Linked DNA regions of Homo sapiens. The protein of the gene in region 1 purifies or fractionates together with the protein of each later gene. This does not show direct contact. Each region holds a gene or a part of one and is shown in the gene's direction. Other genes may lie near its edges.

Region 1 (5,263 bases):
TTTTTTTTGAGAGACGGTGTCTCGCTCTATTGCCCAGGCTGGAGTGCAGTGGCCTGATCTTGGCTCACTGTGACCTCTGCCTCCCGAGTTCAAGCAATTCTTCTGCCTCAGCCTCCTGAGTAGCTGGGATTACAGGCGCCCACCATCACGCCTGGCTAATTTTTGTATTTTTACTAGAGACAGAGTTTCGCTGTGTTGGCCAGGCTGGTCTCTAACACTGGCCTCATGTGATTCACCCACCTTGGCTTCCCAAAGTGCTGGGATTACAGGTGTGAGCAACCACGCCCAGCCAATTGCATCAGTTACACACTGGTGGAATGTTCTCTCTCAGTCAGCAATAGTCAAGTGGGGGCGAGTGGGGAAGGGATAAATAGGGCCTATCTGAGCAGGTGGAGCTGAACATAGTTTACAAAAGCATATTTAACATTATACTGTATTGTATATTTTTAATCAAAAAATATGATTGCTTTTGTAATACAGGGTCATTTTTTATCTAAGGATAATTGGTACCAGAAAAAATCTACAGAAAGAAAACCTGCTGAAGGTGGACCAAAATTTAGAAGGTTTTGAGTGGGATGCTGTCTAAAAATAAAATAAAATAAAATGCAAGAAAAACCGTAAATTAAACAAAATTGAGGTCAAAAATTAAAACCAAAATCGAGGTTGTAATTGCAGGTGTGTGCTAATCCTTGATTATATAGTTACAGTTATATGCCATTTCTTGTTATTGAATTGGGAGAGGTTTAACTTTTCCAATGAAATTGTCAGACAACATGAAACAGTATCTTTCCCTTCACATTTGACTTTTGTACCAATCATAAAGAGGGTTTTTCCAAACATATTTGAGGTATTCAGATCATTCTCTCTCTTTTTTAAAAATACATTTTTGGCCCAGTGCGGCGGCTCACGCCTGGAATCCCAGCGCTTTGGGAGGCCGAGGTGGGCAGATCATGAGGTCAGGAGTTCGAGACCAGCTTGACCAACATGGTGAAACCCCTCTCTACTAAAAATACAAAAATTAGCCGGGTGTGGTGGCACACACCTGTAATCCCAGCTACTCGGGAGGCTGAGGCAGGAGAATCGCTTGAGCCCGGGAGGCAGAGGTTGCAGTGAGCCGAGATTGCTGCACTCCAGCCTGGGTGACAGAGTGAGACTCCACCTTAAAAACAAAAAAAAAATATTTTTATTTTTAAAAAATTAAAAAATTTTGGAAATGAGGTCCTTCTCTGTTGCCCAGTCTGGAGTACAGTCATAGCTTACTGCAGCCTCAGGAACTCCTGGGCTCAAGCGATCCTCTCACCTCAGCTTCCCAAGTAGTTGGGACTACAGCACACTCCACCGTGCCTGGCTAAATCATTCTCTTTTGAAACCCCTGCTAAGTTGTCATTCCCATGGGTTTTCTCTTTGTCTCTTGTTCACTGGTCTGCCTCTGCCAGATCTGTATTTGTGGCTTTGCTTCTGATTTGAGCAATTTGCCAGCATCATCTTCCCTGCAAGCAGCTGTGTATGTAACAGTCAGCTGTCAGGAAGACACCGACTGGCAAAAACACAGGCACAGGGAGGCCAGTGTAAGCAGGGAGGGCTGTATGAGTGGTGGGCAGTGATCCAGGGCTTGGCTATTTCACGAATACTTTATGTTATGATGGCTTTTGCTTTCCTGAGCCACCAAGCCTACTCAGATTATAAACACTGAGTACAGAGGAGCCCTTGTATAAAGTATGGTAAGTTATGCCAGACACACTCAGCTTAGCATGGGTTTAAAGCTGGGAATGGCCATCCACAATGTAGCATTACAGGCCAGAGCAGAGAAAGCTGTCAATTTATACTTTGGGGCTATGTGCAGTAGCTCACACCTATAATCCCAGCACTTCGGGGGCCGAGGCAGGAGGACTGCTTGAGCCCAGGAGTTTAAGACCATCCTGGGCAACAAAGCAAAACCTCATCTATTAAAAAAAAAAAAAATTAGCTGGGGGCATGCTGATGTGTGCCTGTAGTCTCAACTACTTGGGAGGCCAAGGCAGGAGGGCAGTGGGCTCGGGAGGTCAAGGCTGCAGTGAGCCGTGATCATGTGACTGCACCTGGCCTAGGAGACAGAACGAGACCCTGCCTCTTTTCTTTTGTTTTTTTTTTTTTTTGAGACAGAGTCTCACTCTGTCACCCAGGCTGGAGTGCAGTGGCGCAATCTCGGCTCACTGCAAGCTCCACCTCCCGGGTTCACGCCATTCTCCTGCCTCAGCCTCTCCGAGTAGCTGGGACTACAGGCACCCGCCACCACGCCTGGCTCATTTTTTATATTTTTAGTAGAGATGGGGTTTCTCCGTGTTAGCCAGGACGGTCTCGATCACCTGACCCTCATGATCCGCCGGTCTCAGCCTCCCAAAGTGCTGGGATTACAGGCGTGAGGCACCGTGCCCAGCCGACCCTGTCTCAAAAAAAAAACAAAAAAAACAAAAAAAACCAACTTTGGCAGTTGAAGCAGTAGTTGTGCTTGCTTGGGTCATCATGCTTGTCACACCATACAGTGAGTATCTGTTTGCTTGTCTTTTTCCCAAATGAATGTGAGGTGGTTGAGGAGAAGTACTGCCCCTCATTCATCTCTGGATCCCAGGGTCCTGCAGAACCCCCTTGCAAACTGTTTCAAAATGTAATGGATTCTTTAAAGTGGCAGGTGTGAAATGGCGGAGCAGGTGCTCATTAAGACCTTCAGCATAAAGGTGCTATTAGAAAACCACCCTGTCAGTTCATGTACTCTGTGTTTTGATTTTTGAGTATTTCCAGAGATTAGCACAATTGGTTTGAGCTGGCTACATAAGAGTTCTGAAGTATGAGTTTGATTCTTAGAGAGACGCAGTTAGCTTTTTTATAGTCTATCAACAACTGTCAACATTTCTTTTTTTTTTTGAGACGGAGTCTTACTCTCATTGCCCAGGCTGGAGTGCAGTGGCGTGATCTTGGCTCACTGCAACCTCTGCCTCCTAGATTCAAGTGATTTTCCTGCCTCAGACTCCCGAGTAGCTGGGATTACAGGCACTCGCCATCATGTCCAGCTAATTTTTGTATTTTTAGTAGAGACAGGGTTTTAACATGTTGGCCAGGCTGGTCTCGAACTCCTGACCTCAAGTGACCCACCCGCCTCGGCCTCTCAAAGTGTTGGGATTACAGATGTGAGCCACCACGCCCGGTCAACTGTCACATTTCTAACTCCAGGAAGCTGTTCACCAACTTTCCGTTATCACCCACAAGTTAGCGCAGGTGAAGACTGTAGATCCGCCGTGTCAGTCAGGGCTCTGCTAATCCATCATGTTTGTGTCATTCATGATTGGTCTGTAGTATGGAAAGAACAACAAACCTTGAAGAAATATTTTGAAAGATTGGCTTTTTGTGTGTGTGTGTGTGTTTTTTTTTTTTTTTCTTGAGAGAAGGTCTTACTCTGTCACCCAGGCTGGAGTATAGTGGTACTATCACGGCTCACTGCAACCTCCACTTCCCAGGCTCAGGTGATCTTCGCTCCTCCGCCTCCTGGGTAGCTGGAACCACAGGCATGCGCCACCACCATGCCTGGCTAATTTTTTGTATTTTTAGTAGAGACGGGGTTTCTCCATGTTGCCCAGGCTGGTCTTGAACTCCTGGGCTCAAGTGATCCCCCCACCTCGGCCTCCTAAAGTGCTATGATTACAGGTGTGAACCACTGTGCCTGGCCACGATTTTTTATTTCCTACAAAGTATATTAACTCAGCAGCTGAAGGGCCAGAAATGGTTGTTCAAGATACTGGAGATGAGTAAGTCATGGTTCTCCGGGGATGGTACCAATTAATACACAGGCCATAGCAGTACAGCCTTAGAGGCAACTGGACTGAAGAGGGGCCTTGTGTGACCAGCTGGGAAGTTTGGATGCCTCCCTGAAGTCCAGCCATTGTGGAGCTGTGCACAGAGGAGTGCCATGTTCACAGCCCCTTGGGCTGACGGGGGCAGAGTGACAGCAACAGAGCCTCCCCGTGGCGACCTCCAGGGTCCGGTCAAGGGGTATCAGGACCTGAGCAAGAACAGTTGCTGGGGAACCAGGAGGCGGAAGTGGCAGGAGGTGGGATGGGCTCTGAAGGCCGTGCCTGGTGGCCTTCTCCCGTGTGCCTTTGTTGGGGGGAAGTGCTGTGAATTGAACTGACTTATGGCTTGGTGGAGTGGACACACTCACACGTGAACCTTCCAATTCCAGCAATCAGGCCTCATGGAGGAAAGCTAATCTCACCTGCAAAATTGCAATCGACAATCTAGAGAAAGCAGAACTTCTTCAGGGAGGAGATCTCTTAAGGCAAAGGTACCTATTCTTTTATTTTTCTGGGCTCCGATAATAATAGATAACAATTGGCAAGGTGTAGGAAACCCCCTCTTGTTTTCAGCTTGGTGCTTAATTTAATTACATAAGTAATTTTTTTAAGTTTGAAAAAAATGCATACTTATTTGTAGTAAATTGGTAAAATAAAGTATGAATTACAAAATTAAAATATTGAATTTTTTTTTTTTTCTGAGATGAAGTCTCACTCTTGTAGCCCAGGCTGGAGTGCAGTGGTGCCCTCTTGGCTCACCGCAACCTCCGCCTCCTGGGTTCAAGTGATTCTCCTGCCTCAGCCTCCAAAGTATCTGGGATTACAGTTGCGTGCCACTGCACCCAGCTAATTTTTTGTATTTTTAGTAGAGACGGGGTTTAACCACGTTGGCCAGGCTGGTCTTGAACTCCTGACTTCTGGTGATCCACCCACCCCAGCCTCCCAAAGTGCTAGGATTATAGGCGTGAGCCACCATGCCCGGCCGAAAATATCAAATCTTATTACTCATGAACATTTTGGTATATTCTCTCCCTCATTTTTATTTCTACATTTCTTACAAAGTCAAAATTGTACCATACATAAAATTTCATATTCTGCTGTTTCAGCACAAAAGTTGTTCATTAAAAAAAAAAAAAAAGCTTTTTAAGCCTAATTCTAACAGTACATAGTATGTAGATTGTATGTTAATACAATTCCCTGTGTGTGTTTGCATTTCTAGTGTTTAAGTAGTGTAAGTAATACACCAGGGCATGTCTTAGAACATAAGGCTTTATCCACATTTTGGATGTTTCCTTTGGAGGGATTTCCAGGGATGAGATGATTGAGTCAAAGGAATGAACATTACCAAGGCTCTTCAATTGGCAAATTGCTTTACAGAAGGCAGCACTGGTTTATGTTCCTACTAGCAGTCCACAGGGGCGTGGGTCTCAGCACACCCT
Region 2 (4,740 bases), on another chromosome or scaffold:
GTACAGAGATTCTGCTTTAAACTGTTGTCAGTGCTATTACTTTACAGATAACTTTGTCTTGCTTTTTATGTCTCACCAGCTACATTATTGAGCAGGGGGTGTGTTATTTGGTTTTATGTGAAGCTGCCTTCCCTAAGAAGTTGGCTTTTGCCTACCTAGAAGATTTGCACTCAGAATTTGATGAACAGCATGGAAAGAAGGTGCCCACTGTGTCCCGACCCTATTCCTTTATTGAATTTGGTAAGTTTTTGCCCCTCACTTCTCTCTATCAAGGGAGCAAACAATATGGAGAAGCTATTTGTTACACTGATATAATATTTATACATTTTTTCTGATGTTTACTTGCTGAAGTTTTAGCTTCTGCATCCTTTTCCATTCCACTTCTTTTTGTCTTTTTGAGTGACTAAGGCTTTGTTCTGAAAAGTAATTTTCTCTAGTCTTTTGATCTTTCCCCCATAGAAATTGTTGCCTTTTGCCCTTTCTGTTATTTGGTTTGATTCTTCTTTAGAGTCACATGTGACAGGAACTGTGCCTAAAGATCTACTTGATTGGCATATAATGGCTGAGTTCTTCTTTACCCCAGTCCACAGACTCACACTCACAATAAGGCTCATTTTATGGAGATCAGAATTGGGAAATCAGAAAGAATGATGTTTTGTTTCTTTTAGTAGAATAAGATCCTCTAATTAAAAAAACAAAACATAACAAAGAAATAGAAGATACCTGGTACTCATGGTATTGGGGTATAATATTTACTACATTCAGGAATAGTGAGCATAGGTGTCTGTATTTGTGCAAGAATTATAGAAAGACTAATTACTAATCAGACCTGGTAAAGTATCTGATGGTAAGGGATCAAAGGAAATGTCCTAAGTACAGTAAGTACAGGGAGTGAGAACAAGTAGGATCAGGCTATATCGCTGAAATTTTTAGTTAAAAGAGAAATTGGTTTTACTGGCTTAGAATTTTTGAAGTGTTTCAAGTTTGCTAGATAAATGGGTCATCTTGCTTTGGAAAAACACTCTAGTGTTTCATAACTATATACTCTCCAAGTGCTGCTTTATATAATGTCCAGTTTTTCAAATTTTATTTTTATAGACAGTAATACTCCCATAAACCTCCCTCAAAAATAAGACAAATGTATCAGGGTCATACAGGAAACAGATGGCACACCCAAATTAGCTTAAGGGATTATATACAAAGATATGACTAGGCTGTAGGAGAATTACAAGGTACAGTAACCTCTGACCAGTAGCATACTGGTTGTTACCATCCCTAGGCCTGAATGTATAAGGGGGAGGAGCAGTTTCTGAAACTGAAAAGGAGAAAATTTCTAGAGAAGGCCAACTTGAGAGGAGCGTAACTTTTGGTAGAGGGATACTTCCAGAAGAAGGTTATTTCCTTCTCTGAAAGAAGCCAGGGGAATAAATACCCGGACATCACTCACTGTCTGTTCTCCTTCTTCCCTACTGTTGGGGCTTCTTCATTGCCTGAACCTAACTGGCACAGAGCAAGGAGTCTTGAGGCGCTTCATCCAAGTCAGCTTCCCAGTGCAGAAAGCAAGGTGCAGGAGGGCAGAGAGGAGATCTAAAGAGGCAAATGAAAGGGGTACAGCACACTTAAATTAAGATTTTTGCCAAAAGTTGAAAATATCTTTAATAATAAGTCATTCTTCCTATAGTTTTGAGAAATACTGATATGAGCAAAAGATGGATGAGACTTCAGTTTTTATTTATTTATTTATTTACTTAGAGACAGAGTCTCGCTCTATTGCCCAGGCTGGGGTGCAGTGGCATGATTTTGGCTAACTGCAACCTCTGCCTCCTAGGTTCAAGTGATTCTTGTGCCTCAGCCTCCTGAATAGCTGGGACTAGAGGTGCACGCTGCCATGACCAGCTAGCTAATTTCGGTATTTTTGGTAGAGATGGGAGTTTTGCCTTGTTGGCCAGGCTGGTCTCGAATTCCTGGCCTCAAGTGATCCACCCATCTTGGCCTCCCAAAATGCTGGGATTTATACGTGTGAGACACAGTGCCTGGCCGAGACTTCAGTTCAGTTTTGTATTGGTATTTTGGAAAACTCCCTATTACATATTTGCTTTACCTGAGGTTTAAGAATGGAATGAAACTGGGAATGTATATTAGAGAAAAGGTAAAGTTTCTCAGCTTTTTAATGATCATGAACCCTTTTGCCATGTTAGGCTGTAATAATGCTAGAGTGTTACCAGCATCCTTTTAAGGAATGTGTAGAGGTAAGTAACACTTAGCCTAAGGGTCCTCAGAATACTGTTTGAAAATTTCTGTTTTCAGGAAAGGCTTACTATAGTGGGTCTTAATTTCTCTAAGGATTCTGATAGCAGCCTTAGATAGCAAATACTTCTAATTCAAAGGTATTCAAAGGACATTTCTCCTGAATGGTCGTCTAATTATACCTTTACATCTTACAAATGAAATAATCAAAGCCTAGATTTTGATATTCAACCAAGAGTTTGGTTAACCATGGACAGTGGCAAATCCAGGAATAAACTCAGAACTGTTTTGGTTTTTTTTTTTTTGTTTTTGAGACAGAGTCTTGCTCTGTCACCCAGGCTAAAGTGTGGTGGTGGTGTGATCTCGGCTCACTGCAACCTCTGCCTCCCAAGTTCAAGTGATTCTCCTGGCTCAGCCTCCTGAGTAGCTGGGATTATAGGCGTGTGCCGCCACGCCTGGCTAACTTTTTATATTTTTAGTAGAGACGGGGTTTCACTGTGTTAGCCAGGATGGTCTCGATTTCCTGACCTCATGATTCACCTGCCTTGGCCTCCCAAAGTGCTGGGATTACAGGTGTGAGCCACCGCGCCTGGCCAACTCAGAACTTTTAATCTCCTACCTCAGTACTTTGATGGCCATGAAAGAAATGGTCAGTTTTCTTCATCATTCTAGATACTTTCATTCAGAAAACCAAGAAGCTCTACATTGACAGTCGTGCTCGAAGAAATCTAGGCTCCATCAACACTGAATTGCAAGATGTGCAGAGGATCATGGTGGCCAATATTGAAGAAGTGTTACAACGAGGAGAAGCACTCTCAGGTATCTAAAAGCAATGAGTCTTATGAAGAAATGGTTCTCATTCCATAGACAAGGATAGCTTATTTTGCAGTGCCTTTTATGCTATTAGATTCTACCTAGAACTGTTAAGAATTTATCTCCCAGAAGTACATTACATTACAATGCTTCCAATATATTTTTTTTCCTAGCATGATTAGTTTTTGTTGAGTTGGAACAGTGTAAAGGACTCATCCATATTAGAAGCAATGATTATTTCTAAGATATTCACAAAATTAATTAAATTATATAACTTGTATAAATTAAGGGAAATGAATGAGAGAAAACTCAATGATGTATTGCAGTGGTTTTTTGAGTAGCCTCTTTGGGAGACTTTACTGCTGCCAGATCAATCTTTATAAAATGCCATTTTCATCAAGGCATTCCTCTGAAAAACTTTTAAATCTGGGACTACAAGATAAGATCCAGTCTGACTTATTTTTCCGTCAGTCAGCCATTGTTATTGAGAGCTTGTTATTTGTAAGGCATTGTGCTCTACATATGGAAAATAAGGAAGATGCAAATGTCTGTCATTCTCTAGTTCACAAACATTCTTCTGTAGCCACACCAGCTTCTTTACTATCCTTAGTGGTCTATTCTGCCTTATGCTGGACCTGTTCTGTAAGACCTCCATAAGAACTGTCTCTTTAAAGAACCTTTCTCTGATCCTTATAGCCTGTATCACATTAATCTCTTCTGTACTTTAAACTCCTAAAGCACTTAATAACATAATGGTTTTAGCACATATTACATGTATGTGTGTTTACCTAATTTACCTTAAATATATTTATTAAATACCTCTTACCATATTAAATATATATTTAATATATATTAAATATATTTCCATATAACATAAGTATATATTTCATATATTTATATTAAAGTAGGCAAACATATTTGGATAATTAAATATTTTTATATAATTTCGTATATTTTTTTGAGACAGAGTCTTGTTCTGTTGCCCAGGCTGGAGTGCAATGGCACGATCTTGGCTCACTGCAACCACCATCTCCTGGGTTCAAGCGATCTTCCCACCTTATCCTCCTGAGTACCTGGGGCTACAGGCATGTGCCACCACGCCTGGCTAATTTTTGTATTTTCTTAGTAGAGATGGGGTTTTGCCATGTTGTTCCGGCTGGTCACAAACTCCAGGGCTCAAGCAATCCACTCACTTCAGCTTCCCAAAGTGCTGGGATTACAGGCATGAGCCACAACACCCAGCCCTTTATATAATTTTAAAAGTGTAGGTAATTAGGTAAAATTAGGTTAAAAGTATATGTATATTTACCTGATATTTAAATATTACCTAAGTGTTTAATGTGGACATGTAAGCTCTTTAAAGATAGTGCTTATGTATTTTATATCTGTTTCACATACTCCTTATATATCCCCCACAGAAATGGTCACAAATAGGTTCCTTAATAAGTATTTTTGAATTCAGCCATGCTATATATTCATTAGTAAGTGAGTTTTCTTTTATTATGAACTACAAACTTTAACCTTTTTTTGAGTAGTGAGCAGTTATTCATTTACCTTCACACTCTTTAAATACCAAATTTTGAGTGAGTGAGTGTGTAAGGTTTTGTCATACAGACTTGCAATTCCTATATGGGATAAAGTAGACTAGCACAGGAATTTTTCTTGTATCACTCATGCAAG
Region 3 (4,740 bases), on another chromosome or scaffold:
CTTTGCTGGTTTAAGTTAAAATCTGACTCTCTTCACATTTCTGTTTTTTTTCTAAAGGGCTACATTCCTGTTTTGTTACTGCTGTTCATACATATAATTGAGGACTTGTGTTCATATACTGTAGGAAAAATGGTATTTCCGCTCTTGGGCATCAGATATTGCTGAGTTATCATTGCAAAACAAAGCAAAGCAAATAGTAAGCACTTGGTATTTCTTTTCTTTTTTTTTTTTTGTGAGTTGGAGTCTCGCTCTGTCACCCAGGCTGGAGTGCAGTGGCACAATCTCTGCTCACTGCAACCTCCACCTCCCAGGTTCAAGCGATTCTCCTGCCTCAGCCTCCCAAGTAGCTGGGACTACAGGCACATGTCACCACACTGGACTAATTTTTGTAATTTTAGTAGAGATGGGTTTCACCATATTGGTCAGGCTGGTCTGGAACTCCTGACCTCAGGTGATCCACCTGACTTAGCCTCCCAAAGTGCTGGGATTACAGGAGTGAGCCACTGCGCCTGGCATGTACTTGGTATTTCTGCTCTTAAACCTGTATAAGACATGCGTAGTTTTTGTAATGCAGACTAGCAATTTTTTTTTTTTGGAACGAAGTTTCACTCTTGTTGCCCAGGCTGGAGCGCAATGGTGTGATCTCGGCTCACTGCAACCTCTGCCTCCCGCGTTCAAGCGATTCTCCTGCCTCAGCCTCTTGAGTAGCTGGGATTACAGGTGCCCACCACCACGCCCAGCTAATTTTTGTATATTTAGGTGAGACGGGGTTTCACCATGTTGACCAGTCTGGTCTTGAACTTCTGACCTCAGCTGATCCACCCACCTCGGCCTCCCAAAGTGCTGGGATTACAGGCATGAGCTGCCACGCCTGGCCAGCAATTTTTTTCTTGATTTACTTTTTGAAAATAAAAACCATAAGAAAATAATATTAAAATTATTTTCAAATGCTATTTCAAAAAATATAGGCCATCAGTTCTTTGTAATACTCATCATTTTACATATTATTGAAGTGCTAGGTTTTAAATATATATGGCATTGTAAATTTATGAGTTTATTGACTTAAGTCATATTATTGAAATTTGTTGGGAGTACATTAGCAAACATTTGATTATTAAGCCTTGCAGGAGTTTAAAATTTGGAGTAGAAATTGTGCTCTTACATACAGGAATTTTCAACTAATTTTTATAAGTGTTGTGCATATACAATTAAATAGAACCATGTAATTGTAACTTTCTAATTGGAATGACTTAAGAATTCAAACTATTTTCCTCCTTCCTTAGCCAGAATGGTACTTGGCTCAAGTACTTATGTGGATTGGAAACCATACTGAATTTCTGGATGAGAAGATTCAGCCAATATTAGACAAAGTAGGCTCTTTGGTAAACGCAAGGGTAAGAGACTCAGTCATAAGTGTTTCTGTTTTAGAACTGTATGTGTGCATGGATAACTTTTTATTTACATACCTCATGTTTGTGTATTTTTTTAGCTTGAATTTTCTCGGGGCCTTATGATGCTGGTTCTTGAGAAGTTAGCCACTGATATTCCTTGTCTGCTATATGATGACAATCTCTTCTGTCATTTGGTGGATGAAGTACTCTTGTTTGAAAGGGAGCTACACAGTGTTCATGGCTATCCTGGCACTTTTGCTAGTTGTATGCATATTCTATCAGAGGAAACCTGTTTTCAGAGATGGTTGACGGTGGAGAGAAAATGTAAGTGCTGATGTGGCCAGATGGTAGGGAGATATGTCTGTTTCTGTGGGTATACATTTTTGATATTTTTCTTCTCCAGTTCTAAATAGGAACTAGAGCCATTTGAAATTTCCTTTTCAGGGTTTTCTGTTTCCTTCAGAGATAATCTTTTCTTTACTTCACATGAAACTTCCATTTTTCCTGAAATTACACTCTACATATTTCTAGAGTGGAATAGTCAAGCCAGTGGGGTGTTTGTTTTATAGATTTTATCATATAATTTATTTTATTTTTATTTATTTATTTTGGGACAGACTCTTGCTCTGTTGTCCAGGCTAAAGTGCAGTAGTTTGATCTCAGCTCATTGCAACCTCCACCCCCTGCGTTCAAGCGATTCTCCTGTCTCAGCCTCCCGAGTAGTTAGGATTACAGGCACGCACTACCACGCCTGGCTAATTTTTCTGTTTTTAGGAGTGACAGGGTTACAACATGTTGGCCAGGCTGGTCTGGAACTCCTGACTTCAAGTAATCCACCTGCCTTGGCCTCCCAAAGTGTCAGAATATTTTATTTTTTTATTTTTGAGATAGGGTCTCACTTTGTCACCGAGGCTAGAGTGGAGTGGGCCGATCATGGCTTACTGCAGCCTCGACCTCTGGGGCTCAGGTGATCCTCCTGCCTCAGCCACCCCAGTAGCTGGGAGTATAGGTATATGCAAGCCATGCCTGGCTACTTTTTGTATTTTTTGTAGAGATGGGGTTTCCCTGGGGTTTTGCCCAAGCTGGTTGTGAACTCCTAGACTCAAGCAATCCACCCACCTTGGCCTCCTGGAGTGCTGGGATTACTGGTGTGAGCCACCGTGCCTGGCCAATAGAATATTTTTTACTGTAGCTTATCTAGTCAACATAACTATTTTCAGAATTTGGGGATGGGAGTAAAGTATCCTGTTTAAAGCATTAATTAAGTTAAATTTAGTACAACCAGTGGGATATTGTAGGTTTGTTTCTTTTTTATAGAAAAGCCATCATTCCTAAAAAATTACAAGTTGAATAATTAGGAACGACTGTAACTACTTAATTGACATAATTGTTTTGTCTGCTTATCAGTTGCTCTTCAAAAAATGGACTCAATGCTTTCCTCAGAAGCTGCCTGGGTATCGCAATATAAGGATATCACTGACGTGGATGAAATGAAAGTTCCAGATTGTGCAGAAACTTTTATGACTCTACTCTTGGTTATAACTGGTAAGTATGTCTTTTAAGATATGACTTTGTTTTAAAAGTACTGTTTTCACGTGGTAGTTTTTAAAGTAGCTCAGTAGGCTGGGTGCAGTGGCTCATGCCTGTAATCCTAGCACTTTGAGAGGCTGAGACGGGCAGGTTGCTTGAGCCCAGGAGTTCGAGAACAGCCTGGGGTACATGGTGAAATGCCCTCTCTTCCGAAAAAATACAGAAATTAGCCAGTTGTGGTGGTGTGTGCCTGTAGTCCCAGCTACTTGGGAGGCTGAGGTGGGAGGATTTTTTGAGCATGGGAGGTAGAGGTTGCAGTGAGCCATGATCACGCCACTGCAGTCCAGCCTTGGTGACAGAGTGAGACCCTGTCAATAAAGTAATCAATAAATAAGTGGCTCAGCAAATTAATATTATATGATGGTTGTTATCTTCAAATTCAGTTTCTATATTGGTAGAAATCTAACACAATATTCTAACTTTTGGGTTTTTAATAATTTAAGGATTTAAACATTGGTATACATGAAGGAAAACTTCCTGAATAATTACACAAAAACAATTAAATAGGAATTTAATTTTATTATCCAAACTGTCTTGCTATTGGGCTTTTTAGGTGTCTTCAGTAAATGGTGATTGGCCTATATTTTAAATATTGTCTTGATCTTGATTTATCAAAGATTGCAGAAGAGAGTAAAATAATGAAGTAATTTTAAGGATTGGAGTAGTAATAGGAACTTTTGTTACAGTGCAGGGATTCTCTGGCTGGAGGGTAGCCTAGCATCCTCTGGCCCTGGTTGGTCTTTAGCCAATCACGTTGCCCCCTTGTGGGCCTGCTTGTTGTCCAGGTGCCACTGGACCCTCATTGCCACCATCCCTGGCCCTCTTCACCTTCGTCAACCACTAGCCTGTCCGTTTCTTAGGCTTGTCTGGTAACCTGAAGAAGTATCATTCCAGCCCAGTCAGTAAATAATTCCTTTTTTTTTTTTTTTTTTTTTTTTTGAGATGGAGTCTCACTCTGTCACCCAGGCTGGAGTGCAGTGGCATGATCTCGGCTCACTGCAACCTCTGCTGCCCAGGATCAAGCAATTCTTTTGCCTCCGCCTCCCAAGTAGCTGGGATTATAGGCACCTGCTGCCACGCCCAGCTAATTTTTGAATTTTTAGTAGAGACGGGGTTTCACCATCTTAGCCAGGCTGGTCTTGAACTCCTGACCTTGTGATCCACCTGCCTCGGCCTCCCAAAGTGCTGGGATTACAGGCATGAGCCACCGTGCCCAGTCATCATTCCATATTTTTAACTATAAGAAAAATATGAAAAATACTAAGACAAAAAAATTAAGGAAAATTCATGTCTCTTAAAAACTTTTTATTCAGAAAATTTTCAAACATACACAAAAGTAGGATAATATGATGAACTCTCAGGTACCTATTGCCAAAGTTTAAAGCAATTATCACTTTTCTGTTATATTTTACTCCTCAATTTTTTTTTTCTGGAGTATTTCAAAGAAAATTTCAGACATCTCATCATGTCAATTGTAAATTCTTTTTTTTGAGACAGAATTTCGCTCTTGTCACCCAGGCTGGAGTGCAATGGCGCAATCTCGGCTTACTGCAACCTCCGCCTCCTGGGTCCAAGCAATTCTCCTACCTCAGCCTCCTGAGTAGCTGGGATTACAGATGCCTGCCACCATGCCTGGTTAATTTTTTTTTGTATTTTTACTAAAAATACAAAAATTTACAGGCAGTTGGCCAGGCACGGTGGCTCACACCTGTAATCCCAGCACTTTGGGAGGCTGAGGTGGGCAGGTCACGAGGTCAGG
Region 4 (4,740 bases), on another chromosome or scaffold:
CATGGTGAAACCCTATCTCTAGTAAAAATACAAAAATTGGCTGGGCGTGGTGGCGGGTGCCTGTAATCCCAGCTACTCGGGAGGCTGAGGCAGGAGAATCGTCTGAACCTGGGAGGCCGAGGTTGCAGTAAGCTGAGATCACGCCACTGCATTCCAGCCTGGGTGACAGAGGAGGCTCCATCTCAAAGAAGAAGAAGAAGAAGAAGAAGAAGAAAAAAACAGGCTTTAGTTTAGATTTGAGCTGATAATGTATGTGCATATTTCTGATGTATATAATGCTTGCTGTAAGGTTCCTTTGAGTTCCATTGTTAATCTTGATCACATAGCTGATTTAATGAATCAAACCAGAGTAGATTTAGAAATATATTTTCTTTCATTAATTCTAAAAAGTTATTCTTATTTCCTTACTATTAACTTCAAATCTCCTTTTTCAATTTAGTGTGAGATTAAACTTGCCCCCAAACGATCTCGTTTGGAGACTAGAGCTGGAGAAGAAGATGAAGGAGAAGAGGATTCTGATTCTGATTATGAAATATCTGCCAAGGCTCGCTACTTTGGTTATATAAAACAGGGCCTTTACTTGGTGACTGAAATGGAGCGATTTGCACCACCACGGAAACGCCCACGAACCATTACTAAAAACTACCGCCTTGTGAGTTTGCGCTCCACGACACCAGAGGAACTTTATCAGAGGAAGGTGAGAGAGTAGCATATTACTACCCAAGTTTGAAGTCATCAAGCTTTTCTTTTATTGAGAAAAAGTTAATTTTTTAATAAAGGAGAAAATTTCAAGAGGGATGTTGGATCATTGACATGTTAAAAATATCAGTTCTATAAAGCTTTTTAAAATAATGCTAATCTTTGTACCTAAATAATCAAAATCAAAACCATGGATAAAAATTGAATTCACTTAGACTGATTATCCACTTGGTGGCTTAGCTCATTTCTTTGCTACCCTTCATGTGGCCTTCAGCTCTCCCTTTATCTGTGTTTAAATCAGCCATCTACAGAGGGTGAAGGAAGAAGTTCAGACTTGCTTTCTAGTCCAGGGCTTGCTTGGGAAGCCGAGGTGACCAGCACTGTGTGTTCACGTGATTTGTGCTGTTCTTGCAATGTCGTGGTAGGAGCTCTGGACTAGAAGCCGGGTTGTTCCATGGTTGTCTTGGTTTTGCCGCTGTTTTACTCTAAAACGAGAGCTTTGCACCTTTTATCTCTCATCTTTCTGTTGAAGTGCTGAAAGAAACACGAGATCTTTCTGCTCCTCAAAATATCTGTGAGCTTCTGGTGCCACAGTGCACAGGAATTAGTGACATGCTGGATAAGTCCAAGGGATTATCATCATTCATTGTATCATCATCAGGACCCTGTGGATAATTCAGTCATGTAACATTCCTGTCCTCGTGTTTTTATCTGAAGATTGAAAGTGAAGAGTATGAGGAAGCCTTGTCCTTGGCTCATACCTACGGCCTGGATACTGACCTTGTATATCAGAGGCAGTGGAGGAAGTCAGCGGTCAACGTTGCTTCAATTCAGAATTATTTGGTATGTTTAAATATTTTGGTAATGTGGTAAAATGTATATTCATGTAATATCTTTTGTTTATAGGGCTTCATTTTAGAGTACTTTACATTGCTGACTTTTCTATAATACAGCCAATGAAGTACAATTTTCTCAGCTGGAAAAATGGTCTTTTTGTTAGATTTTATTGCCCCTGCAACTGGACTTTGATGCTGAATACATGTGAACAAATATTCACAGATAAACCAGCTAACTACTTGGTCTCGGCCTAACGTTTTCTTTCCTGTACCACAATCACTTCTCTTTACCTGCATGAGTCAAGAGCTAGTCAGATGCCAGAAATCACACAGTAATTTAAACAGGGAAATTTACAATATGGAGAATTATTTTCTAGTAACCAGAGATGAACTATAAAGGATGTGAAGAGAACGCTAAGGACTACCCTAGGGCTGAAGGGACATATCCATGAAGGGAATGAACTTGGAAGGGAGGCCCCTCCCCTAGGCTGGGATTCAGACCCATTGGACCAGGAGTGGTTGCAGCATGTAGGATGGAAGAGAAGTTCTCTGGGTTGCCTTGAGCCAGGGCTGGTCCACGGTTGCCAAGGTTGGCAGTCAGGGAGATATGGGATGGATAGGAAAGCTGGACGCCTGCTTCTGGGGGGGGCCAGTGAGCTGAGGTTGGGGTTTAGAAGACCCCAGGGACTAGGAAGCAGGAAACCCCTACCAGCATGCATGTGGCTCAAGGCTGGTAGATAATTAAGGAATCATGGCCAAGACTGGCAAGAAAAAACTGTCTACTCCTATAGGCAGCCTTACTGTAGCTTCCAGTCTGGGAAGCTTCCCTCTCAGGTGCCTGGGTGATTCACTAGAAAACAATCTGCCCATGAGAGTGTCACTGAAACTCAGTGGGAGGTTGTCAACAGAGGGAGGAAGCGGGGAAGTAAGTGCCACTTGATGTTGCCCACGTGCCTTGTTGGTGGCCAAGCCATAGGAGCAAGAAGAAAAGAACCAAAGCACATCAGGACTAGAAAGCAGAGCCTCTTCCTTTGCAGTGGCCCTCCAGCACCCAGAGCTTAAAATCGTGTCAACCACAAATGAGATATGCTACCACAGAGCTGGCTTTGAGGGGAAATTTGGAGCTGAGAGGCAATAAATAGGTAACATATATGAAAACTGCGAAATATGCCTTTTTAAAACTTAAATCTCAAAACTGGATACTTCCTGTTACCTGCCTCCCATAGTTAAGGTTAATATAGTCTTGTCTCAATTAGTTTTAGCCGCTGCAACAAAAATATCAGACTATGTGGTTTCAACAGCAGAAATTTATTTCTCTTAGTTCTAGAGGCTGGGAAGTGCAAAATCAAGGTGTTAGCCAATTTCGTTCCTGGTGAGGGCACTCTCCTGGTTTGCAGATGGATTTCTTTCTTGCTGTGTCCTTATATGGCAGACAGCAGAGAGAGAGAAAGAAGGCTCTCTACTGCCTCCTCTTATGAGGACACCAATCCTATCATGGGGCCTCCACTCTCATGACCTAATTGCTTTCTAAAGGTCTCATTTCCAAACATCATCACTCTGGGGATTAGTTTTTCAACATATGGATTTTGGGGGACATATTGATTTCATAGCAAGCCTATATGTTTTAACCTTTGGCATCTTTGTAAGAAAGAATTATAGTTAGACTCATGGCATACTTTTAAAAAGGTTGAGACTTCTGATCTTAACATATAGAAAGGAAAATACCTTTGCATTGTGGAAGATTATAGGAAACACTGGGAAAATTTCATGATGATTATTTCCCTAAAAGTTTTATACGTTAGTAATTAAAAGTAAAAATATAACATGAAAAAGTTGTATGGAAGAAGATGATGCATCAGCCAAACAGGATGATAAACCTAACATTAATACAAGCAAGATATCAGAGGTGAAAGAGCATGAGAGGTAATGAAACGGAAGAAGATAAAGTTGCTTGTATTTTCTTTAGAAAATCAAAACACTAATTCTGTATTATTTTTCTTTCTTGTTTTGTGATCTAAGACAATGAGCTCATGAGTTCATGTATATCTTTTTCTGGGATACAGTAAAGGACAGTTTTTGTCTCTGAGGGAGTTGAGGGATGTTAAGAGAGACAAAGCAAGTACTTTTTTGGGGAGGGGAATATTTCGTTTAGTTAAATAGACAGTTAAGAGCAAGAGCACTATGCTAGGGACTGTGAAGGGGTACAGGACAGGCATAAATGTGGCTTTTGCTCATAGGGAGCTTATGATTTTTTTTGTTTTGTTTTGAGATGGAGTTTTGCTTTTTTTTGCCCAGGCTGGATTGCAATGGTGCGATCTCGGCTCACTGCAGCTTCTGCCTCCCTGGTTCAAGTGATTCTCCCGCCTCAGCCTCCCAAGTAGCTTGGGACTACAGGCACACAACACCACACCTGGCTAATTTTTGTATTTTTAGTAGAGACGGGGGTTCACCATATTAAAAATAACTGGCCGTATAAGTAGATTTCAGATACAACTCTAGAAACCCAGTGAAGATAGTGATTATTATAGATCTGGTAGAGATGGAAGATTTTATATAGTGAAGATGTTTGGAGCAGGGATTTGGAAGGATTTAAATTAGGCCTTCTTGAATGAGAAGGGAGGAAGACATTCTTAACAGGACAGATGGTATGAACAAATTAAAAGACACTGAGCATGATTTATGAGGCCAGTGACTAAATCTGTTTTATTCACTGCTATATTTCCATGTCTAGTTCAGTGGCTGGTGTGCAGTAGGTGCCCAGTAAACATTTTATGGATAAATGAGCTCTGTACATCAACCAGTTTGCTGGCACTGATATTTGACAATAGTGAACACTGGGAAACATGATTGAAAAGATATATTGATTTGAGTTCAGGAGGATGTGGAAAGCTTCTGATGACTTAGGCATTTATCTACTGTTGTGGATTTCTGACTGTGGAAGCAGAGGAAGATGGTGTAGAGAGAATTGGAGTGGAAGGAAGGTAGGAAACCTTGCTTGGGGCAGGGGACTCCTACAGTGTGCTAGATGTTTTGTGTTGATGATTTAGACTGGTATGGAGGCCGCAGCTGTGGAAAAGGGAAAGTGAATTAAGAGACATTTGAAGAAAGAACTGATGTGAGGCAATATATAAAGGATCCTAGGGAATGAGTCAAATCTTAATTAAAATTTATAACCATAATAGCTCTTTCTAGGAAGAGGGCAAGT

What was found.
Region 2: the proteins of BNIP1 (region 1) and SEC22B purify together in Homo sapiens (affinity purification with mass spectrometry; 3 studies listed by BioGRID and IntAct, with this or other methods). This does not show direct contact.
Region 3: the proteins of BNIP1 (region 1) and RINT1 purify together in Homo sapiens (co-immunoprecipitation; 4 studies listed by BioGRID and IntAct, with this or other methods). This does not show direct contact.
Region 4: the proteins of BNIP1 (region 1) and NBAS purify together in Homo sapiens (co-immunoprecipitation; 3 studies listed by BioGRID and IntAct, with this or other methods). This does not show direct contact.

Annotation. Positions count from the first base shown.
Region 1 is NC_000005.10:173,154,531-173,159,793, forward strand, and holds part of BNIP1 (vesicle transport protein SEC20), read left to right. Parts: intron 1-4,213; coding exon 4,214-4,315; intron 4,316-5,263. UniProt on the Homo sapiens protein: As part of a SNARE complex may be involved in endoplasmic reticulum membranes fusion and be required for the maintenance of endoplasmic reticulum organization. Also plays a role in apoptosis.
Region 2 is NC_000001.11:120,158,710-120,163,449, reverse strand, and holds part of SEC22B (vesicle-trafficking protein SEC22b), read left to right. Parts: intron 1-79; coding exon 80-240; intron 241-2,919; coding exon 2,920-3,066; intron 3,067-4,740. UniProt on the Homo sapiens protein: SNARE involved in targeting and fusion of ER-derived transport vesicles with the Golgi complex as well as Golgi-derived retrograde transport vesicles with the ER.
Region 3 is NC_000007.14:105,548,772-105,553,511, forward strand, and holds part of RINT1 (RAD50-interacting protein 1), read left to right. Parts: intron 1-57; exon of another isoform or gene 58-196; intron 197-1,283; coding exon 1,284-1,394; intron 1,395-1,489; coding exon 1,490-1,715; intron 1,716-2,798; coding exon 2,799-2,936; intron 2,937-4,740. UniProt on the Homo sapiens protein: Involved in regulation of membrane traffic between the Golgi and the endoplasmic reticulum (ER); the function is proposed to depend on its association in the NRZ complex which is believed to play a role in SNARE assembly at the ER.
Region 4 is NC_000002.12:15,470,024-15,474,763, reverse strand, and holds part of NBAS (NBAS subunit of NRZ tethering complex), read left to right. Parts: intron 1-439; coding exon 440-697; intron 698-1,416; coding exon 1,417-1,542; intron 1,543-4,740. UniProt on the Homo sapiens protein: Involved in Golgi-to-endoplasmic reticulum (ER) retrograde transport; the function is proposed to depend on its association in the NRZ complex which is believed to play a role in SNARE assembly at the ER. Required for normal embryonic development.